4 linked regions of the Homo sapiens genome follow. The protein of the gene in region 2 purifies or fractionates together with the protein of the main gene of each other region. This does not show direct contact. Each region holds a gene or a part of one and is shown on either strand. Other genes may lie near its edges. The genes, in order: TBC1D22B, FSCN2, SPECC1L and QRICH1.

Region 1 (6,088 bases), on a different chromosome or scaffold from region 2:
CTGGTTGCTATTAACAATCTTTTTTTCCTATATTTCCTGTATTTGGCTATAAGAACAGTCAACTTTTTTAAAGCACTACTTTTCTGAGATAGGAAGAGAAGTCTTTTCAGTTTCTTCAAGTTTCTGGATTCCTTTTTCATTTTGAAGAATATAGAGAAATAGAGAACTTTCGAGTTCAGAAAGACTTGGGTTACTATTTGGGCTCTGTTGTGTGTGTGACCAAGACAAATAATCTTTCTAGGCCTCAATTTCCTTACCTATGAAATGAGAAATAAAAATACTTTCCTCAGAGTTACTGTGGGGACTAAGTGAAATACCCTATTTGTAAAGAGCCTAGGACAGTGTTTATTTAGCACATTATAGTTGCTCAAAAAAACAGTAGTTATTAACATTGCTGTCATTATTACAGCAAGTAAACATTTAAAATAATGTTACTCAGATCCTTACCCCAGCTCATTGTCTTCGTTGTTTAAGGTATTCAAATATTGTCACAATTCATAATAGTTTTTAGTACCTTACTTGGTAAAGAGAAATACTGTTCAGCTGTGTGCTTTTAGCAGTGAAGCCCACAAGCCTCTGGTCATAGGAGAAAACTAAGGTTCTTTTAGATAGAAAGGTACTTTGGTTTAAAGAAAATGTTAGGGCATTTTCTCAAGAATAGAACTTTTGCATCTGTACTCTTTCGGTCTTAGAGAAGAAAAACTTTCTCCTGGGTGGGGAAATGACACAAATGACTCTACTGGATGCATGCAAACTTGGAAATGAAACTAGTTTACTCTTCTTTGCAAATTGAAAGGTGAAAAATAAAAGCGATGACAGGGTTCTTTCCATTTGTCTGATCATGATCCAACAATCTTAGTGACAACAAATAGAAATTTTATTAAATAAAAGAAGTTGCAAATGAATGAAACATTCTTTTTAAAAATAACAGCTTTATTGAGATATAATTCACATACCATAAAATTCACTCTTTTAAAGTGTACAATTCAGTGGTATTTAGTATATTCATTTATAGTATAGATGGTTTTGTGCAACCATCACCACTAATTTCAGAACATTTTCATCATCCTGAAAAGAAACTACATACCTGTTTACAGTCACTCCCCATCCACCCCACTCCAGACCCTGGTAACTACTAACCTACTTTCTGTTTCTGTGGATTTACCACTTTTGGACATTTTATATATATGGAGTAATATGATCTGAGGCCTTTTGTGAGTGGCTTCTTTTATTAAGCACAGTGATTTCAGGCTTGTCCACGCTGTAGTATGTATCAGTACTTCATTCCATTTTATGGCTGAATAATATTCCATAGTATACATACACCACATTTTGTTCATTCATCAGTTGATGGATATTTGAATTGTTTTCACTTTTGGGCTATTGTACGTAATGCTTTTATGAACATTTATGCAGAGGTTTTTGTTTGGATATATATTTTCTATTCTTCTGCTGATAAATAGGAGTGGAATTGCTGGGTCATGTAGTAACTTGGTGGAACTAAGCATCTTTTAAGTTCTCTCAGTTATTCACATGAGCCCCATTTACTTAGCACATCAAATGGTCATTGTATTAATGCCTAGAAGATAAGAGGCAATCTCTACCATTGCAGGCTTTGGCAGGTGTGGTGGCCTGTAATCCCAGAATTTTGGAAGGCTGAGGCAGGTGGATCGCTTGAGGCCAGGAGTCCGAGACCAGCCTGGCCAACGTGGTGAAACCCCCCATCTCTACTAAAAATACAAATTAGCTGGGCTTGGTGGTGTGTGCCTGTAGTCCCAGCTACTCAGGAGGCTGATGCCCAAGAATCTCTTGAACCTGGGAGACGGAGGTTGCAGTGAACTGAGATTGCGTCACTCCACTCCAGCCTGGGCAACAGAGCAAGAGATTGTCTCCAAAAAAAAAAAAAAAAAAAAATGCAGGCTCTGAAATCTGACTGCCTAGGTTAAAATCCCAGCTCTGCTTTCTAGCTATGTGATCTTATGGGATTTAATTAACCTCTCAATGCATCAGTCTCCCCATCTCTAAAATAGGGACAGAGTATCTGCTCCATGGGGCTGTTATGAGGATTAAATGAGATAATACATAATAATTGGTTAGGAGGTACACAATAATATTAGCTATTATAAGAAGGATAGTTACGATGATAGTAGCTATCATTTTTGTTTTCTCTCCTTGCTTCAGTTTTTGAAACTGAAATTGAAAAGCTTTGATCTGGTTGGGTGTGGTGGCTCACACCTGTAATCCCAGCACTTTGGGAGGCTGAGACAGGTGGATCATTTGAGGTCAGGAGTTCGAGACCAGCCTGGCCAACATGGTGAATCTCCGTCTCTACTAAAAACACACAAAAAAATTATCTGGGCTTGGTGGCACAAACCTATGGGGGAAAAATAAAAAAGCTTTGGTCAGTGTGTGTGTGTGTGTGTGTGTGTGTGTGTGTGTGTGTGTGTGTGTGTGTGTCTAGAGCTCGGGCACAGGAGAAAAAAAAAATCACCTTTTTTTTTTTTTTTTTGAGATGGGGTCTCCCTCTGTTGCCCAGGCTGGAGTGCAGTGGCACGATCTCAGCTCACTGCAGCCTCTACCTCCCAGGATTAAACGAGTCTCCTGCCTCAGCCTCCTGAGTAGCTGGGATTACAGGCACATGCCACCATGCCCAGCTAATTTTTGTATTTTTAGTAGAGAAGGGGGTTTCGCCATGTTGGCCAGGCTGGTCTTGAACTCTTGACCTCAAGTGATCTCTTGACCTCAAGCCCACCTCAGCCTCCCAAAGTTCTGAGATTATAGGTGTGAGCCACCGTGCCCAGCCCTGGCTAATTTTTGTATTTTTTGTAGAGACAGGTCTTGCCATGTTGCCCAGGCTGGTCATGAACTCCTGGGCTCAAGCAGTCTGCCCACTTCATCCTCCAAAAGTGTTGGGATTACAGGCATGAGCCTCTGCGTCTGGCCAAAATCGAAATTACCTGAGTCTTCCAGGCCCTTCGTTGTTAGAAAGAGAGGCCAAGTTAAGAACTTGAAGCCGATCCTAAAATAATAATGAATCTGATAGGAGACTTAGTGTAAAAGTCACAGCCTGTCTGGGCAGGTACATTACAACTTGTTCTTGGCTTGGAGATGTTTTACTGGTAGAGTGAGTGACTAGAAGATACTAAATTATCATCGAAACAGCATAGATCACCTGTTCTGGAAGACTAATGTGGAGTGAGTGTGTGAACCTACATCAGTTGCCAACACGTTTGGCATTTAAATTTGATGGGTCTTTTTCCCATATTTGCACTAGCTCTTTTATCAGTGCTAAACAAACACCTGTTGATTTTTCCTACCAAGATGTTTGCACTGTTTCAACTAGGCAAAACAGCTATGTCAATACATTCTATGGTGTTGGTTTTATTAAAGAGAGTGACGGAGATTAATCAGAACTTTTGTTCCATTTTGTCTGCGTGGCAGCATATTCCATGGCATTCTTTTCTCTGCATATGTGGTGTGATTTCTTCGAGATGCAGTGTGTTAACTAACCTCTGGTTTTTAGGTCTAGCTTAAGTGGAGGCCTAGGTTTTGTAGAGATCTAATCTTCACTTACTAAATATTGTTAAGTGCCTGCTGGTATGTGTCATGCTCTGCCAGGTGGCAAGGGGGCTACAGAAAAAGATATGGCACCACTATGGCTTTCTAGGAGCTAAAAAATCTGCTTGGCATCATGGCTTCCCCTGGAGAAGATGCTGTGTATGATTGACTTTCTGGTTTTTCCACTAAACATATGTTATATTTGTAATCAGACAAACTTAAAAGTGGAATTGGGTGAAAACACATTGTTGAATGCAAAGAGCAAGATGTAGAAAGATATGTGCAATGTGCAGTCTTTTATGTGAAGTTTAAAAACATAAAAAATACTGTGTGTTGTTTATGGATCTGTGAATATATGTAGAGGAATAAAAACAGATGGGAGGAGTTCCCTCCAATTTCAGAATAATTGTTATCTCTTGGGAAGTGAAGAAACAGGACTAGGGACTGCAATTAGGGCATCAGTAGTCTAACACTTTGTTTTTGTTTTGTTTTGTTTTGTTTTTTTGACATGGAGTCTTACTCTGTTGCCAGGCTGGAGTGCAGTGGCCCGATCTCCGCTCACTGCAACTTCCGCCTCCCGGGTTCAAGCGATTCTCCTGCCTTGGCCTCCCGAGTAGCTGGGACTACAGATGCGTGCCACCACACCCAGCTAATTTTCTTGTATTTTCAGTAGAGATGGGGTTTCACCATTTTGGCCAGGATAGTCTTGATCTCCTGACCTCATGACCCACCCACCTTGGCCTCCCAAAGTGCTGGGATTACAGGCGTGAGCCACTATGACCGGCCTAACACTTTTTTTCTTAAATGAAATGTGACAAATGTTAACATTTGTAAATCAGAGTGATGGGTTTGTGGATGTTTATTATATCATTTTCTGTACTTTTCTTTGTGTTTGAAAATGTCAATTAAATGCTTTTTCACTTGTGTTAGAGCAAATGTTTTGTATTTTTTTTTTTTAACTTGTGTTGGAGAGATCAGCCAGTTAGCCATGGAATTAAGTAAAATTTAAAGTAACATGATTTAGAGTCAAAATAAGTCATATTTACAGTGTGATGTTATTTATATAAAGTTTAAAAAACATGCAAAATCATACATTATTTAGGGATACATACATAGAAAATAAAAATATAAAAATGAGTGTGAAAAATGCCAGATCCAATAGAGTGGCTTGCTAGGAAGGGAGGGAGGGGTATGCCAGGGTGTTTTGTTTTGTTTGGTTTTGTTTTGTTTTTGACACGGGGTTTCACTCTTGTTGCCCTGGCTGGAGTGCAATGGCACGATCTCGGCTCACCGCAACCTCTGCCTCCCAGACTCAAGCAATTCTTGTGCCTCAGCGTCCTGAGTAGCTGGGATTACAGATGTGTGCCACCAAGCCCAGCTAATTTTTATTTTTAGTAGAGATGGGGTTTTGCTGTGTTGGCCAGGCCAGTCTCGAACTGCTGGACTCAAGTGATCTGCCTGCCTCGGCCTCTCAAAGTGCAGGGATTACAGTGCCCAGCCCTGATTGTGTCTTATATTATGATCTAAATCTAGTTTATTTTTAAAAAGTAATATAAGCCCTAATTTATGTATGTTAGGGAACTAGAGAAGACATGAGTTAGTAGATGCTGGGGGTAGGGGTATGGAAAGTTTCATGAGGGGTGTAGAATTTGAAGAGAATGTTGCAGGATGGATACAATTTTGAAAAGGGATGTAGAAAATAGAAAAGCATTCCAAGTAGGGAAAAGAGCCTTATTTAATAATGGGTTTAATAAGTTTGGAAGGTGGAGTGGAGATCAGTCTTTCTTAGAGCTGAGTTTGGGTTTGGAAGGAGTAGGTATGGTACAGACAGTGAAAGGTGAATTATAAATGTCAGGAAATTGAGCACCTTAATCATTGGGCTCTTCTGGTCTATCTCCATTTAGTCTCTGTGATCATCTCGGTTTCTCTTTTCTAAATTCTTGCCTGTCTTTTTTAAGCTGCAATAAGCTGATTTATTATACAAAGTGTTCCAGTTTTAGATACATCATGGTTCAGTTCAAGAATATGTTAACAAATTCAATTTGGGCCCTGATACCTTTGCTGATGAAGTCCATCATTTATCTTAGCCTTCCTGGCTATGCCAGCACCTTGGGCTGACAGCTTTAAAAAATAGTCTACTGTGATTTTAAGATTCCTTTCCTAGATGGTAATTGATGGCCTCTGGCCCTTCAGCCTGCACAAATTAGGTTTGCTTTTCTTCTGCATGGGTTACTGGCAGATGGTAATACTTCTTTAAGGTAATACTCTCTTATTTTTCTACCCAGTCACCTTACCTAACCGGCCTGTTGAGATCTTCCTGCAGTTTATCCTCTGATTTTATATTTTATTGTGAGGAGGGCTTGTGGGCTTGAAGAATTCAGGTGTACTCTTAGATTATTTGCAGCTGCTAATGTGCATATCAGTAGCCCTTTGGGTTTTTTTTTTTTTCCCGTGGTCAGTGGGGGTGTCTAACACCCCCTTCCTCTCTCAGCAGAACTTTCCCTTTACTCTTTGATTCCTCTTTTTTTCT
Region 2 (5,715 bases):
ACACGCCTGGGGGAGGGGTGTGTGTCCAGGGCTGTGCCAGCCCCTCACTCGCCATCACAGGCCACAGGGATCCCAGAGCTGACAGATCTGGGTCGCCTGCAGGACTCATCTCCCCACCCTCAGCTGGATGCCAGCAGGTCTCAGGAGGCTGGGAGCCTGAGGGGCCTTCCACGGGGCTGCTGTCTGTGCAGAGCAGTGGCACCATCCAACCCTGTCAGCCTCAGCTGTGCAGGGGGTGTGGGGGCACCACTGTGGCTTGTGAAAGAGCAGACACAGGGATGAGCCGCACTGGTGTCCCCACACCCCCGGGCACACACTGGGGGTTTAGATAGCTTGCTGTCCTTGGCACTGCAGCCTCCTGAACTAAGGCGGTGCTGGCCACCAGGGCTGAGACGGCGTCCCCAGCTGTCCTGACCTCTGTTGGGGCATTCTCCAGGGCCACCCATGTGGAGGCATCAGTGCTGGTGTGTTTACAAATGTTCATGCCCACCTGCCAGCCTGAGATCCTGCTGTGGGGACGCCTAGTTCAAGACGCCATGTGGTCCCCCCGAAAAGAAAGCTGCGACGCAGACCCTGAGGGGCCAAGAGAGCAGGTCACGTGGAACAAAAAGGAGATCTACAGCGGCAGGAAAGGAGGGACCACAGTGGGCAGTCCCCAGCCCCGCTGTGCCGCCAGAGTGTACAGGGACTGGGCGAAATGTACCCAACTCACATGCACCTCCAAGGAACCTGCTCTCAACACTCGGCATTTGAGGAGGGCTTGGCCTCAGAGGCAGGTGGCAGGTCCACAATCAGCTTCTCGGGGAGCCTGCGGACCACGGTGTGGCCGGGCCCTGTCGCCCATCCTGGGCCTCCCTGCCCTCACCTCTTCAGTGCACACCTCCTGGGCTCTCAGCACCTGAGCTCTCACTACGTGAGGCCCTTCCCCGGTGGCAGGGGCGGCCTCTCGACCTTTCCAGCTTCCTCCACCTGCTCCAACTCCGATCCTGGCTTGACACCGTAGCCTTGCATGACCCTCAACCCAGCTCACACGTGGGGTGAGAGCAGCTGTTCTTCCCCCTCCTCCTAGGAGCATGTGCTAGACGCCACCTGGCAGCTGCTGGCAGCTGTCTCTGCATGGAGTAGCACCTGCCTCAGCAGCAGCAGTGGGCCCCCCGCTTCCAGGCCCAGCCATTATTCCGTTCCAAAGGGTTTCTTTGACCTCCCACCCCACCCTCCGCTTCCTAGCCTCTGCCTCCCGCCGTGCCCCAGGCTGTGGATGTGGACGGAAGTGGGGGTTCCCGCAGTGGCAGGCCAAGTTCACGTCAGGCAGGGCAGTGCAGGGAGACAGACCCTCTCCGAGGCTCTGCTGAGCGGGGAGCCTGGAGGTGCTGAGTGCCAGCCACTGCGGTTCCACCTGGTGCCCCCAGTCCCGCCCCAGCCACAGACTCCACCTCACCTTGGCTGCCACCAGGGGACACTGCAGGCTGCAGGGACAGCCCGAGCTCCAGGGTCACTGCCGTTCCCTGCCAACTTGGACCAGGTGGCACCTGGTCCTCCAAGGGTTAACTCGGACCCGCCTTGCCCACGTGGCTCGGGGAGTTCCAGCCTCTTACCATGGAAACCTGCCCTTCTTTGTCCCTAAGGCTGGTGGGCTTAGTGGAGGGGCATCCCAGCCAGTTCCTCCCCTTGCTGGCCGTGCTGGTCCCACCTCCCCAGGACTGGCTCTCCCCCACCCTCTGCCACTCGCCTGGCCTTGAGCAGTGCACAAGGAAGGACGAGCACCGCAGGGGCTGCCGGGGGCTAGGGAGGGTTGAGGACCTAGGTTGGGGAGGGGCGGTGTCCAGTGAGGTCATCTGTGGTCGGTGTTGGTGGCCTCAACCCGCGCAGGCTCAGTCCCCCACCCACCCCCAGTCCCCGTCCTCCCCATGTCCTTGAGACCTCCCCTCCAGCGGCCTGGGTCACCCGGCCCATCCACAAGACCACCTCCCAGACGGGAGTCCCTGGGCACTGGGAAGTTCTGGGCTCTCTCTGGTTTGGGGAGAATTGTGGGCCTCCTCCACCTCCAGCTGCAGGACCCCCAAGCGGCGCCCCGGGGCCCACCCACAGCTGCGGGAGAGACACGGTTTTAATGCGCGACAGGCTGGTCTGGGCGCGGCCTCAGTACTCCCAAAGCGCGGTCCCGGCCGGGGCGTCGGCATCGGCCCGCAGCAGGCCCGAGGCGCCGCCGCGCAGGTACTTGCCGCTCCGGGCGCGGATGGCCAGGCGGCCGCGCTCACGGAACTCGAAGACGAAGTCCTCGGCGCGTTCGCCGTCGCTGCACACGCTGCCGTGGCTGCCCGTGTACCAGAACCCTCCGTCGCGGCCTGGGGGACGGGACGGCGTCGGCGGGGGTGCCCACCTGCCCGCTGCCACCCCCGCTCCCGCGTGCCCACCCGCCCCGCCACGCACCTCGGATCCGGTAGGCGCCGTCGCTGAAGCTCAGGTGGAAGACGTCGTAGACGGAGCGGTTGGTGTCCAGCTGGTTGGAGCCGCGGTGGTGGCAGACGAAGCCGTCCAGGCCGCGCAGCACCAGGATGGGCCGGTTGATGAGCTTGAGGGTGAACTCTTCGTCCTTGCCTGGCGGGGAGAGCGTCTGCTGCGCTGCCCCTCCCGCCACCTTCCCTGTCCAGGCCGGGCGGGGTGGGGGCCCTGGGAAACGCCACACCTGGACTTAGGGACCCAGGCCTGCCATTGCCTCATGTGCGGCCTTGGCAAGGCGCCTAGGGGGTTCCCAGCAGCGGAGATAAGGACATTCAGACCTGTTTCCCTTGCCAAGACGAGTTATCTTGACTAGCAAGTATGACTCCATGACAGCACCCGTTCCGTGGGCTGGGGAGGGTCCAGCTCTTGGTGGAGATGGGGTGTCTGGGCAGGTCCTTTCCCTGGGTGGAGACAGCCCCTGCCCCAGTACCTGGCAGGCAGAGTGCTCACCGACAAAATCGCTGATAGCCGCCAGCTGCCCATTCTTCTTCATGCACACGTAGCGCCCGTTGCTGGCTTTGAGTGCTACCCGCCGGCCACGCCACTCCATCTCAAACATGGTGTTGGCAGAACTGGAGGGAGCAGCAAAAGGTCTCCTCAGGACAGCAGGAGATGGGGGTGCAGGGTCTCACTTCCCCATCCTCCTCAGGTTCCAAGGAGTGGGACAGAAGCCTGCCCTCCACTGACACACCCACCACCATCAGGCGCTACCCTGCCCCAGTGGGCTTTCCTTTCTGACTGAGCTGCTACGGCAATCCTCATGGCCGAGGCAGTGATGGTGGTGGGAGTGATGGTGCAGGTGATGGGAACGGTGGTGGGGATGGTGAAGATGGAGATGGGGATGGGGATGGAGAGGGGGATGGTGATGGAGATGGGGATGGGGATGGAGAGGGGGATGGTGATGGAGATGGGGATGGTGGAGATGGGGATGAGGATGGTGAGGGGGATGGGGATGAGGATGGTGAGGGGGATGGGGATGGGGATGTAAATGGAGATGGGGATGGTGATGGTGGGGATGGCAGAGATGGGGATGGAGATGGGGATGGTGGGGATGGAGATGGGGATGGTGGAGATGGTAATGGGGATGGTGGAGATGGGGATGGTGATGATGGTGATGGGCATGGTAGAGATAGAGATGGGGATGGTGATGGGGATGGTGGTGATGGAGATGGGGATGGTGATGATGGTGATGGAGATGGTGGAGATGGGGATGGTGGTGATGGGGATGGGGCTGGTGGTGGTGGGGGTGGTGGGGATGGAGATGGGGATGCGGATGGTGGGGATGGTGATGATGGGGATGGTGGTGATAGGGATGGTGATGATGGGGATGGGGATGGCGATGATGGTGATGGAGATGGTGGAGATGGGGATGGTGGTCATGGGGATGGGGCTGGTGGGGGTGGGGGTGGTGGGGATGGAGATGGGGATGCGGATGGTGGGGATGGTGATGATGGGGATGGTGATGGTGGGGATGGGGATGATGGAGGAGGAAGGGATGTGTGCACTCACACTTGTGTGGCTGTGGCGTGAATGCCCCCATGGGTGACCAGGGTCCAGTAGCCCCCAGTGCTGGAATAGAAGGTGCACTTCTTTGTCTCCTGGTCAATTTGCATCAGGAAGGTCTCGTGGTCTAGTTCATCATCCTGATTGGCTGAGACGTTGACCCCTGGAGGGAGGAGATGGGGAAGCCCCTCACGCCTCTCCTGGGTAGGGAGCAGGGGAGGGGGCATATTTTGGGGGGCACCCCTGAAGCCAGAGGTGGGTCTCATCTAGAACCCTCTTGACTTGAGAAGATTTGGAAGGCACCTCTCAGAGACCCTGGGAACCCTGCCCCAGGGCCATATGTGCCGTCTGTGGACCCTGCACACTGTCCCCAAGGGAGCCCTGACCTCCCTCCACACCCCCAGGAGCCAGGCCCTTCTGCTTGGCACAGCCCCCACTCTCTGCTAATCAGTAATCAGCTGGTAATCTCCTTGCCCTGCTCTCTTGACCCAGGGCTTACCCCAGCCTCTATTTATAACTCACCCTAAGCTGCTGGATGGGCACAGGCAGGACCTAATGAAGGGGATGGTGCGGATGGTGATGGGGCACCCCTGGGCTCCAGCCAGGGGCTGGTCCCTGTCACCTCTGCAGCTTTCCCCAACCATCTGTGCTTGGTCTCCCAGGACCCCTGGGGGAGGACAAGACTGCCCCGGGCTCCATCTGGGGTTCCTGCGAGGGGATGGAGGGGCACCCATGCCCAGCATGGGGACAGCAGGCACCAGAGCCTACCCAGGATCTTCTGTGAACTAAGTCCCTGGCTCCTCCCACAAACCACCTCCCTGTTTGCATGGCAGCCAGACACTGGGAGTGGTGTGTCAGATTGCGGAGCTTCCCACAAGGCCCAGGGACTCTGGTGGCCTGTCCAGCTGGGGACTGGGAGGGAGTGGTGGGCAGAGCCCCCACAGGGCCTGAGGGTGGGGCCAGATCCCATCCCACGCTGTGCCCAGGGGAGAGGATGCCAGGCTGTGACCATGCCAGACAGCTTGGGACCTTTTGCCTTCTGCCAGCCCCAAAGCTGCCCCTCACGCCCCAGGCTGGGATCTCCCTCACACTCATCACTGATCAGACGCAGAGGAGCACCCGGCATGTCCCCTGCACTGTGACCGAGTATTCGTGCCAGCATCCCCACTGCCACCAGCTCTAGATCCTGGCAAATACTGAACTAAAAGCAGCTGCCTGGGCCCAGTGGAGGGCAACACTGACACGGTACCCGGGGGCAGCAGGAGCCCGCAGGAGGGGCCCATGAGAGGTGTGGGAACGCCGTCCCTGCGGGCACTGAAGGAAGCCACAGCATCGCAGGGCTCCCCCCGCCACTGCACCTCCCAGGCCAGCACTTTGGTGTCCCCAGAGTTGCCCCACACCCCCTTCAGACAGGATGCTGTCTGGGGCTACTCATTCAGCCACCTGCTTCCGGGGACATGGCCTCAAAATAGGAGAGGAGTGGAGTCCGCCTTGGTCTGGGCAACACTGGTTTTACCCCCCTCCAGAGGGGCTAGCTGAGCAGTTGGGGGACTCAGTTCTGGCAAATGAGTGTGAAGAAGTGTCTGCTAGGACTTAGGGGAGAAGTTTTCTTACTCCTATGAAGACACAAGCAGAGCCAGTGCCTCTTTTTCCTCTGGACTTTGTCCTGCCTGGATGTGAGGCCTGGAATACCAGCAGCCACATTACTAC
Region 3 (6,088 bases), on a different chromosome or scaffold from region 2:
GAAACCCCGTCTCCACCCAAAAAATACGAAAACCAGTCAGGCGTGGCGGCGCGCGCCTGCAATCGCAGGCACTCGGCAGGCTGAGGCAGGAGAATCAGGCAGGGAGGTTGCAGTGAGCCGAGATGGCAGCAGTACAGTCCAGCTTCGGCTCGGCATCAGAGGGAGACCGTGGAAAGAGGGGAGAGGGGAGAGGGAGAGCCAGATTTTCTTTTTTATAAGGATTTTTGATTTAGATAAGGATGTGGTACCACTTGCAGAACTAGGGAAAGGAATTAATGTTGGGGAAAAAAGTTACCCCAGCCAGGTGCGATGGTGCACGCCTGTAATCCCAGCACTTTAGGAGGCCAAGGTGGGCAGATCACTTGAGCCTAGGAGTTCAAGACCAGCTTGGGCAACATGCCCAATGTGGTGAAACCCCGTCTCTACAAAAAATACAAAAATTAGCTGGGTATGGTGGCGTGTGCTTGTAGTCCTAGCTACTCGGGTGGCTGAGGTGGGAGGATCACCTGAGCCTGGGAGGTAGAGTTGCCGTGAGCTGTGATGGCACAACTGCACTCTAGCCTGGGTGACAGAGCCTCAAAAAAAAAAAAAAAGTTATGCCATCTTTTTCCATTTTTGGCCTCCGTATACAGTTGTTTATCCCAGTCTGGTTACTCTTGCCTTTGATATCTGTCACAGATTTCTTGCCTCTTCTCTGTTCTTACTGCCGCCCCTGAATGTGGGACCTCTTTTACCTCATTGATCTACCTGCCCACATTCCTCCTCTGCTGCTCTGCTTTCTTCCTTATGTATTCCACTTAGAATCTGTATTAGTCCATTCTCATGCTGCTGTAAAGAACTGCCCCAGACTGAGTAATTCATAAAGAAAAGAGGTTTAATTTACTCACAGGTCCACAGAGATGGGGAGGCCTCTGGAAACTTAGAATTATGGTGGAAGGGGTAGCAGGCACATTCTTCTCCACATAGTGGCAGGAAGGAGGAGAATGAGAGCCAAGCAAAGGGGAAGCCCCTTACCATCGGCTGTCATGAGAACTCACTATCACGAGAACAGCGTGAGGGTAACTGCTTCCATGATTAAATTACCTCCCAACAGGTCCCTCCCGAAACACATAGGGATTATGGGAACTACAGTTCAAGATGAGATTTGGGTGGGGACACAGCCAAACCATATCAGTATCCTCTAGATTAATTTTCATAAAATGTACTTTTCCTTACATTTCTTTCCTACTCAGGATCATTTATTGACTTAGTGTGACTCACTGAATTCTGCCTATCTTTTGGGACTCTATATGAACATTCCCCAGCAGCTTCCGTTAACTGTGTGACTGTACTTTTCCTTTCTGTGTGCCATGTTCACTTCTGCTTCCTTTCGTTGTCTGTCTTTTTGCCAGCCTGAATTCCGCATCCTCCTGTATACCTGTTCTGTTAGTGGCTATCTCCCTCTATCTGTGGAGATCATTTGCTCCCTGTTACCTCTACAGCCTGGATCCCACCACCTAATGAACCAGCAGGGTCTTTAAAAATACTTATTGATTAGATGTGGATCTTATTTTTTAACATAAAAATTTGTTATTTCTTAAGTATTTACAGGTATTTAAACATATTCCTGGCCAGGTGCGGTGGCTCACGCCTGTAAGTGCGGTGGCTCACGCCTGTAAATTCAGTGGCTCACGCCTGTAATCCCAGCACGCTGGGAGACCGACGCGGGCAGATCATTTGAGGTCAGGAGTTTGAGACCAGCCTGGCCAACATGGTGAAACCCTATCTCTACTAAAAATACAAAAAAATTAGCCAGGCATGGTGGCACGCTCCTGTAATCCCAGCTACTTGGGAGGCCTAGGAAGGAGAATCGCTTGAACCTGGGAGTCAGAGGTTGCAGTGAGCCGAAATCGCTCCACTGCACTATAGCCTGGGTGATGGTCAAGAGAGACTCCATCTCAAAAAAAACCAAAAAAACGAACAAAAAAAACTTCCTGTTCTTTTTGTATTAAACAAATGATTGTGTCAGTTTTCACAGGTTTAAAATTTTAGTAGTTAAGTAATCATGTGATTCACGTAGATTTGATTGACGCATCATCATTATTTAACATTAGTGCTTCGTTGTTTTTTACATTTAGAGAGACAGTATAACATACTGGTTAAGGTGCAAAATCTGGAACCAGACTGCCTGGGTTTCAATTTTGGCTCATCTATTTATTACCTGTGACATGTTGGCAAATTATTTAACATCTGTGTCTGAGTTTCTTCATCTGTAAAACAAGGTGATAATAGCACCTACCTCACGTCTTTAATGAGGCTTATATAAGTTAATGTATGTGAAGTGTTAATGTATTTGTATAACCAAGTGCTAGGTATGTGTTAGCTATTGTTATAATTGTTATTATTTATGTGGCATTTTATGGTGTTAAAACTATTTTGCATTTACTTTGGTCAGAGTAAAATTTTTGTGTTTCTAGTAGGTAGCTTAGATTTTTGGTTTTCCCAGAGACTGCTTTTCCCTTCTTGCCCACCTATGATCTCCCTTCACTATCTGTGTACAGTTAGTTTACCACCGACTGGCTAATCCTGGAGTCATCTTCACCTGTCTTGCCCTAGAATATTATGCCTCTGGCCAACTGGTTAAAACCCCACTTCTGGATTCAAGTTAATGTATATCATTTAAATAACAGCTTTGTAGAAATGTAATTCACATTCCATAAAATTTACTCTTTTAAAAACATGTAAAACAAAGTGTATAACTTATTTCTCCTTGATAATTAAAAGATGAATGATCTTCTGGTTTTGAAGAAATTGAACTTTAACAGACTCTAAGGCAAGATTATTGTAGATCTAAATCATTGTGTAGATCCTGGATTTCATCTCATTACACCTGGGGCAGGAACTGTGTATTCTATGTAGCCTTTTATTGCTGACATTTTTGCCTTACATTTTTTGTATTAAACACATAGGCACAGCTTCTTCAACCAAGCGGAGCACTTCTACAGGTAATAAAGAATCCAGTTCTACTAGAGAAAGATTACGTGAACGTACCCGATTAAACCAGAGCAAAAAACTACCTTCTGCAGGTCAGGGAGCTAATGACATGGCATTGGCCAAACGTTCCCGCAGTCGAACTGCTACAGAATGTGACGTTCGTATGAGCAAGTCTAAGTCAGACAATCAGATCAGTGACAGAGCTGCTTTGGAGGCCAAAGTGAAGGATCTTCTCACGCTGGCAAAAACCAAAGACGTAGAAATTTTACATTTGAGAAATGAACTGCGAGACATGCGTGCCCAGCTGGGCATTAATGAGGATCATTCTGAGGGTGATGAAAAATCTGAGAAGGAAACTATTATGGCTCACCAGCCGACTGATGTGGAGTCCACTTTATTGCAGTTGCAGGAACAGAATACTGCCATCCGTGAAGAACTCAACCAGCTGAAAAATGAAAACAGAATGTTAAAGGACAGGTTGAATGCATTGGGCTTTTCCCTAGAGCAGAGGTTAGACAATTCTGAAAAACTGTTTGGCTATCAGTCCCTGAGCCCAGAAATCACCCCTGGTAACCAGAGCGATGGAGGAGGAACTCTGACTTCTTCAGTGGAAGGCTCTGCCCCTGGCTCAGTGGAGGATCTCTTGAGTCAGGATGAAAATACACTAATGGACCATCAGCACAGTAACTCCATGGACAATTTAGACAGTGAGTGCAGTGAGGTCTACCAGCCCCTCACATCGAGCGATGATGCGCTGGATGCACCATCCTCCTCAGAGTCGGAAGGCATCCCCAGCATAGAGCGCTCCCGGAAGGGGAGCAGCGGGAATGCCAGTGAAGTGTCCGTGGCTTGCCTGACTGAACGGATACACCAGATGGAAGAGAACCAACACAGTACAAGTGAGGAACTCCAGGCAACCCTGCAAGAGCTAGCTGATTTACAGCAGATTACCCAGGAACTGAATAGTGAAAACGAAAGGCTTGGAGAAGAGAAGGTTATTCTGATGGAGTCTTTATGTCAGCAGAGCGATAAGTTGGAACACTTTAGTCGACAGATTGAATACTTCCGCTCTCTTCTAGATGAGCATCACATTTCTTATGTCATAGATGAAGATGTAAAAAGTGGGCGCTATATGGAATTAGAGCAACGTTACATGGACCTCGCTGAGAATGCCCGTTTTGAACGGGAGCAGCTTCTTGGTGTCCAGCAGCATTTAAGCAATACTTTGAAAATGGCAGAACAAGACAATAAGGAAGCTCAAGAAATGATAGGGGCACTCAAAGAACGCAGTCACCATATGGAGCGAATTATTGAGTCTGAGCAGAAAGGAAAAGCAGCCTTGGCAGCCACGTTAGAGGAATACAAAGCCACAGTGGCCAGTGACCAGATAGAGATGAATCGCCTGAAGGCTCAGCTGGAGAATGAAAAGCAGAAAGTGGCAGAGCTGTATTCTATCCATAACTCTGGAGACAAATCTGATATTCAGGACCTCCTGGAGAGTGTCAGGCTGGACAAAGAAAAAGCAGAGACTTTGGCTAGTAGCTTGCAGGAAGATCTGGCTCATACCCGAAATGATGCCAATCGATTACAGGATGCCATTGCTAAGGTATTGTTTAAATAGATTAAAATGTTCCGGACAGCATTAGGCAGCTGCCATGCACAGTGTTTACTGAGAACCTGGGTTACTGGTTTGGTTTGGTGTGTTATTAGCTTTTTTTTAAAACTGATATTTTTAAAACTTGGGAATGGTTTCCTTTTATTGGAATAGTGTGAAAAGTATTCTTAAGATAATGTCACTTTCTCTCACTTGTATTTTGTTTCTGTTTTCCTGCCTGTGAGAGGATATGGCTGGTATTACAGCTAAAACCAGAATTTGTCCCTAGTTCTGAGTATTCCTATGGAGCGGGTCATGAAATTTTACCTCCCCCCGCCTCATCTCGAATCTGTTTTGGTGTAATAGGTGGAGAGTCAGTATTCCAGTCTGTAGCATCAGCAGTGCATGTTTCCTCTTATCTTGCTATAGTAATAGTTTTTCAAATAGAGATCTGTTGATAGTTAAAAAATATTTTTGGCATATAGAGGCTCCTGTTTCTCAGAGGCCTGTGATTTATTGCTGGCAGGGACCTTAGCAATTATCAGTCCAGACCCTTGTTGTACATGCCTCCAGCATAATAGTGAGGACTCAGTTGGAACTGCTACCCAGGGCCACTGGCATTCTGGCCAGGGATCTATCTATACCCCATGTGGTTGCTGATGAACTGTTTATTTCCATGAGTTATTCTAGTTATACTAGTTATTCTAGCTTACATTTTATTTATTTGTTATTTTAGTGCAATGATTTTAAAATAAATTTTCATATATCTTTGGCTAAAATTTGAGTAATTTAGATTTTAGGGTGTTTTTAGTGATCACTTTTAAAGTTACAGTTTAGGAGATTTGTATTAGTTCTTGGCACATACATGTTGAGAGGCTACTGTGAACTAATACTTTTGTAAAAACACTATTTGAGAATTGTTTTCCCTTTTTCAGTTTGATACTGGAACCGTCACAAATATGACATCATTTTTGTTAGGACAACATGTTAATCATTAAACAAACGTACATGCTTTCAGTCCAAAGTTAGGAGAAACGAAAATTTCCAAAGTTTCCTTGTAAATAATCAGGTTAAGTTCAATGATACATCAATATAATTTCAGTCAGTGTTACAGCAACAGTTTAAGTGTATTAGATAAAATCTTACCATGGAGTGCTTTTTCATACTTTTTAACAGTTATTACACAGGTTGTTTTAGTTTATCCATAGTGCCTCATACTTAGCTCCCCTTGGAAACTGTGTGTACCTCAATTCTGGAACGTACCTTAGAACAACTCTTAACTTTTCTAAATCTGCATCGTCAATTTTACGTAGGTAGAGGATGAATACCGAGCCTTCCAAGAAGAAGCTAAGAAACAAATTGAAGATTTGAATATGACGTTAGAAAAATTAAGATCAGACCTGGATGAAAAAGAAACAGAAAGGAGTGACATGAAAGAAACCATCTTTGAACTTGAAGATGAAGTAGAACAACATCGTGCTGTGAAACTTCATGACAACCTCATTATTTCTGATCTAGAGA
Region 4 (6,088 bases), on a different chromosome or scaffold from region 2:
CCTACCTGGGAAACAAAGCAACAACCTGTCTCAAAAATAAATAAACTACAGTTCAAACGTCATTTTGTCCACAAAGACCTCTGTTGACTTCTTAACCTAGAATTTCTAAATTCCCAGTTTGTCTTTGTGTATATGTCATAATTATTCTGCCTTATAAATAATTCGAAGGAAAAGAAATCCTGAGTTCTTACTTTTCACAACTAGACTCTAAGCTATATGAAGCAAAAAACCTTCTCTTATTCTATTTCTAGGCCCAACAGCTAGATATTTAGCAGGTCCTTAACAATGTCACCTAGGATAATATGATACTGCCTCTATGAAACCACCTGGTCAACCTTTGCTTAATTAATCACTTACAGCCCATGTTTCCAAGTGCAGTCCCTTATCTAACTTGTTTGTACCAGCTCCCACAAACATATGCATGCTCAGGAGCCTATGCCCACCGAGGCATAGCACCTTCATCAGTCCCATAAGACCAGAGGCCCTATATCCCACTCTAACGGGACCAGATATTTTACCAATCAGTTCTTTTAGACAGGGTCTCACTCTGTTCTCTAGGCTGAAATGCAATGGCATGATCATAGTAGCCTCAACCTCCCAGGCTCATGCAACCCTCGCATCTACGCTGGGACCACAGGTATGTGCCATCACACTAGACTATATTTTTTAAATTTTTGTAGAGATAGGGTCTTCCTATATTGCCCAGGCTGATCTCAAACTCCTGGGCTCAAGCATTCCTCCCACCTCAGCCTCCCAGACTGCTGGGATTACAGGCAACTGCCACTGCACCCAGCACTAATAGTTTTTTTGTTTGTTTGTTTTGAGACAAAGTCTTGCTATGTTGCCCCAGGTTGGAGTGCAGTGGCACGATCTCAGCTCACTGCAACCTCTGCTTCCCAGGTTCAAGCAATTCTCCTGCTTCAGCCTCCTGAGTAGGATTACCTGGGATTATAGGTGTGTGCCACCACACCCGGCTAATTTTTGTATTTTTAGTAGAGACGGGGTTTCACCATGTTGGCCAAGCTGATCTCAAACTCCTGACCTCTGGTGACTCACCCGCCTTGGCCTCCCAAAGTACTGGGGTAACATGCATGAGCCACCGTGCCTGGCCCCTACTTTTTTCTTTTGACAGAGTTTTGCTCCTGTTGTCCAGGCTGGAATGCAATGGCGCAATCTCAGCTCACTGCAACCTCTGCCTCCTGGGTTCAAGTGATTCTCCTGCCTCAGCCTCCCGAGTAGCTGGGATTACAGGTACCTGCCACCATGCCCAGCTAATTTTTGTATTTTTAGTAGAGACGTGGTTTCATCATATTGGCCAGGCTGGTCTCAAACTCCTGACCTTGTGATCCGCCTGCCTCGGCCTCCCAAAGTGCTGGGATTACAGAAGTGCACCACCTCGCCCGGCCGCCCCCGTAACACAAAAACTCTTGGGAGGTCCCACCACATAGACGGCATATTCAAGCCTCCCAATGGTGATCACTTTTAACAGGCTCCTTATGAGTTATTTTAGCTTTTCTAATTCACCCACACTGTGTGCCCAAAGATGAAAAACAGAATGAACAATCTCACAGCCTCTCCAGTGATGAGTTTGTAATCTATGTGATAAACTACAAGTGTTTTGCTAAAACCATTTACTTATGATACAAGGAAACAGCACTGGGACACACTTGAGGTGTCCCATTCATCTACACCTGTAACTTTACTCTTCCTGAGAAGAGATTACAAAGAAGTGTCCATGGTACTTAAACCCAAAATGTCTCCAAAACTCCAAAGCAATTCCTGGCCATCTCATTTACCTCCAGGTACCAGGATAAACTCTTTTTTCTGTTGCATAGCCTCACGTGATGTTTCTCCCCCTCTTCTCCCAAATACTAAATACTGCATCACTGTAAGAGTAACAGCAGTAAATAAGCCAGAGGTTGCGAGGCAAGCTCTGTGCTGCACTGGGCCCTGAGGGACCAGGCTGCCTGCCCTACTGATAAGTCTTCACTTACTGAACAAGTAACTTGGAGTTGCTGCTGCTGCTGCTGTGGTGGTGGTGTCTGTTCCTGGGGAGTTTGCTGCTGCGGCTGCTGTTGGGGGTCCCATATATGGACAGTTTGAGCCGTATTCTGGTACGTGCCTGCCACAGCCTGCACAGCCACTGGAATGTGGATGTTGCCATTCATGAACTGTGCTGGAAAGAGAGAGTTTGCAAGGGTCTGCACTACCTCTTCATGGGAGTTTTTCACTACAGATGTGGTGCCCACCATCTTCTCCTTGTCATCCTCCAGCTTAACAGCTGCCAGGGCTGTGGGTGAGCCACTGACGTGAACTGCGTTGTAGGCTTCCTGGGGAATGGCAATGTGGGTAATGCTCTGCTGCTGAGGGTCCCCCCGGGGCTGGGCAGAATAAACAGGGATGGTCCAGGTTTCTCCTGTAGGGCTAGTAATGGTCCCAGTGGCACTGTACAGGTGGGCACTGTCTACTGTCAGTAAGTCTGGCCTCAAAGACACATAACTCTGCTGCTGGCCCTGTGGAATGGCCAGCACGGTGGCCACCGGCTGCCCTGAGATGGCGTAGGACACAGTGATGGGCATGTCCACTTTGCGCTTCTTCACTGGTTGGAGGACACTGGCCGTGCCAACCCGCCGCTCCCCTTCCCGGGGTGAGCCCTGCTGGGATGGTGGTGGGGAAAGGGCACCCACGGTCTGGATTTGGATCTGCTGACCACCAGCAAGAGACTGGCCAGCCACCAGCTGAGCCTGGATTTGCTGATGTGGGATGTGCTCCTCCGGGATTTCTGCAGCCTGGATCTGCTGGGCTGCTTGCACGTGCTGCACCTGGATCTGAGCTGCTTGCAGCTGCGAGGGACTGGGACTCTGCAGAGACGGGGTCTGAATGGAGGGGGCTGCTGACTGTGGTGCCTGGCCTTGGATCTGCACCTGGACCTGGATGGGTTGCTCAGTAGGCTGGTGAACGGTGAGTTGTGGGGAGAGCTGAGCCGAGACCTGTTGCGGAGACTGCTGTACCTGCACCTGGACCTGTAAGCAACAAGATTCATCAGTGAGTGAACCAGGCAGCACTGAAAATCCAGTACCCAAGGAAAGAAAGAAAAGAGATCCCAGACAGGGGACCTGCAAAATGTGAGAAAACACTGGCATACTCAAGGCTTCTGAGAAGGACACAATACGTAAGACTAGATCCAGGATTGTCCAGCAGCACATTACAATAACAGGGACATATATCCACCCCAGAGAGCAAGCAAGACAATTAACTGGGGCCTAAAAAGGAAATACCAAAAAAAAAAATTTTTTTTTTTTAAGATGGACTCGCTCTGTCGCCCAGGCTGGAATGCAGTGGCGCAATCTCAGCTCACTGCAACCTCCGCCTGCTGGGATCAAGCGATTCTCCTGCCTCAGCTTCCTAGAGTAGCTGGGATTACAGACATGCTGGAGTCTAACAAGGAAATATCAAAACTTTGGTTCTTTTTTTTTTTCCCCAAATTCTCATTGTGTCGCCCAGGCTGGAATGCAGTGGTGCCATCTCAGCTCACTGCAATCTCCACCTCTCAGGCTCAAGCAATTCTTGAAGCCAGCCTCCCGAGTATCTGGGATTATAGACATGTGCCACCATACCCAGCTAATTTTTGTATTTTTAGTAGAGACGAGGTTTCACCATGTTGGCCAAGCTAATCTTGAACTCCTGACCTCAACTGGTCCACCCACCTCGGCCTCCCAAAGTGCTGGGATTACAGGTGTGAGCCGAAACGGCCGGCATTTTTATTTCCATTTTCTTTGAGGCGGAGTTTTGCTCTTGTTGCCCAGGCTGGAGTGCAGTGGCATGATCTTGGCTCACTGCAACCTCAACCTCCTGGGTTCAAGCAATTCTCTTGCCTCAGCCTCCTGAGTAGCTAGGATTACAGGAATGCATCACCATGCCCAGCTGATTTTGCATTTTTAGTAGAGACAGGATTTCTCCATGTTGGTCAGGCTGGTCTCGAACTCCCGACCTCAAGTGATCCGCCCACCTTGGCCTCCAAAACTGTTGAGATTACAGGCGTGAGCCACCACGGCCAGCATTTTAAAAATTGTTTTTGAAATGGAGTTTCACTCTTTTTTTTTTTTTTTTTTGAGACGGAGTCTCGCTTTGTCGCCCAGGCTGGAGTGCAGTGGTGCCATCTCAGCTCACTGCAAGCTCCGCCTCCCGGGTTCACGCCATTCTCCTGCCTCAGCCTCCCGGGTAGCTGGGACTACAGGTGCCTGCCACCACACCCGGCTAATTTTTTTTTTGTATTTTTAGTAGAGATGGAATTTCACCATGTTAGCCAGGATGGTCTCCATCTCCTGACCTCGTGATCCGCCCGCCTTGGCCTCCCAAAGTGCTGGGATTACAGGCGTGAGCCATCACAAGGGACCGTTTTTTTCTCTAAAGATAGGGTCTTGCTCTGTTGCCCAGGTTAGAGTACCGTGATAAGATGATAGGGCACTTTAAACTTCAAACTCCTCAAGTGATCCTCCCACCTCAGCCTGCTAAATAGCTAGAACTACAGGAACACCACCACCACACCCAGCTAATTTTTTTTTTTTTTTTTTAGACAGAGTCTCGCTGTTACCAGGCTGGAGTGCAGTAGTATGATCTCAGCTCACTGCAACCTCCGCCTCCTGGGTTCAAGCTATTCTCCTGCCTCAGCCTCCTGAGTAGCTGGGACTACAGACGCATGCCACCACCCCCAGCTAATTTCTGTATTTTTAGTAGAGACGAGGTTTCACCATGTTGGTTGGCCAGGATGGTCTCGATCTCTTGACCTTGTGATCCGCTCACCTTGGCCTCCCAAAGTGCTGGGATTACAGGCTTGAGCCACCATGCCTAGCCTTATTTATTTATTTTCTGAGATGGAGTTTCGCTCGTTCCCCAGGCTGGAGTGATATGGTAGTCACGGCTCACCGTAACCTCTGCATCCCGGATTCAAGCTATTCTCCTGCCTTAGCCTCCCAAGTAGCTGGGATTACATGTGCCTGCCATCACATCCAGCTAACTTTTTTTTTTTTTTTTTGAGACGGAGTCTCGCTCTATCGCCCAGGCTAGAGTGCAGTGGTGCGATCTCGGCTCACTACAACCTCCACTTCCCCGGTTCAAGCGATTCTCCTGTGTCAGCCTCCCGAGTAGCTGGGACTACAGGTGCGTGCCACCACGCCCGGCTGATTTTTTTATTTTTAGTAGAGACAGGGTTTCACCGTGTTAGCCAGGATGGTCTTGATCTCCTGACCTCATGATCCGCCCACCTCGGCCTCCCAAAGTGCTGGGATTACAGGCGTGAGCCACCACGCCCAGACCTAATTTATATATACATATATATGTTTTTGAGACCAAGTCTCGCTCTGTCGCCCAGGCTGGAGTGCAGTGGTGTGATCTCAGCTCACTGCAAGCTCCGCCTCCCAGGTTCATGCCATTCTCCTGCCTCAGCCTCCCAAGTAGCTGGGACCACAGGCACCCGCCACCACGACTGGCTAATTTTTTGTATTGTTATTAGAGACAGGGTTTCACCGTGTTAGCCAGGATGGTCTTGATCTCCTGACCTCGTGATCTGCCTGCCTTGGCCTCCCAAAGTGCTGGGATTACAGGTGTGAGCCACCACACCCAGCCCTAATTTTTGTATTTTTAGTAGAGACGGGGTTTCACCATGTTGGCCAGGCTGGTCCAAAACTCCTGACCTCAGGTGATCCACCAGCCTTGGCCTCCCAAAGTGCTGGGATTATAGGCGTGAGCCACCATACCCAGCCCCCAGCCTGATTTTTTGGGCAGAAGTCCCCAACCCTGGGGCCAAGGACTAGTACTGGTCCGTAGGCGAACGACACAGCACAGAGGTGAGCATTACCACCTGAGCTCCACCTCCTGTCAGATCAATGGTGGCATTAGACTCTTGTAGGAGCACAAACCCTATCGTGAACTGCAAATGTGAGGTATCTAGGCTGCATGCTCCTTATTAGAATCTAATGCCTGGCCAGGTGCATTGGCTCACACCTGTAATCCCAGTACTTTGGGAGGCTGAGGAGGGCAGATCACTTGAGGCCAGGAGTTCAAGACCAGCCTGGCCAACATGGTGAAA

The links.
Region 1: the proteins of FSCN2 (region 2) and TBC1D22B purify together in Homo sapiens (affinity purification with mass spectrometry; one large-scale study listed by BioGRID and IntAct). This does not show direct contact.
Region 3: the proteins of FSCN2 (region 2) and SPECC1L purify together in Homo sapiens (affinity purification with mass spectrometry; one large-scale study listed by BioGRID and IntAct). This does not show direct contact.
Region 4: the proteins of FSCN2 (region 2) and QRICH1 purify together in Homo sapiens (affinity purification with mass spectrometry; 2 studies listed by BioGRID and IntAct, with this or other methods). This does not show direct contact.

The regions. Positions count from the first base shown.
Region 1 is NC_000006.12:37,259,540-37,265,627, forward strand, and holds part of TBC1D22B (TBC1 domain family member 22B), read left to right. Parts: intron 1-6,088. UniProt on the Homo sapiens protein: May act as a GTPase-activating protein for Rab family protein(s).
Region 2 is NC_000017.11:81,533,505-81,539,219, reverse strand, and holds the end of FSCN2 (fascin-2), read right to left. Parts: intron 4,169-5,715; coding exon 4,012-4,168; intron 3,075-4,011; coding exon 2,953-3,074; intron 2,671-2,952; coding exon of another isoform or gene 2,599-2,670; coding exon 2,431-2,598; intron 2,346-2,430; coding exon 2,140-2,345; 3' UTR 2,090-2,139; downstream 1-2,089. UniProt on the Homo sapiens protein: Acts as an actin bundling protein. May play a pivotal role in photoreceptor cell-specific events, such as disk morphogenesis.
Region 3 is NC_000022.11:24,318,340-24,324,427, forward strand, and holds part of SPECC1L (cytospin-A), read left to right. Parts: intron 1-2,948; coding exon 2,949-4,579; intron 4,580-5,880; coding exon 5,881-6,088. UniProt on the Homo sapiens protein: Involved in cytokinesis and spindle organization. May play a role in actin cytoskeleton organization and microtubule stabilization and hence required for proper cell adhesion and migration.
Region 4 is NC_000003.12:49,054,868-49,060,955, forward strand, and holds part of QRICH1 (transcriptional regulator QRICH1), read right to left. Parts: intron 3,024-6,088; coding exon 1,995-3,023; intron 1-1,994. UniProt on the Homo sapiens protein: Transcriptional regulator that acts as a mediator of the integrated stress response (ISR) through transcriptional control of protein homeostasis under conditions of ER stress.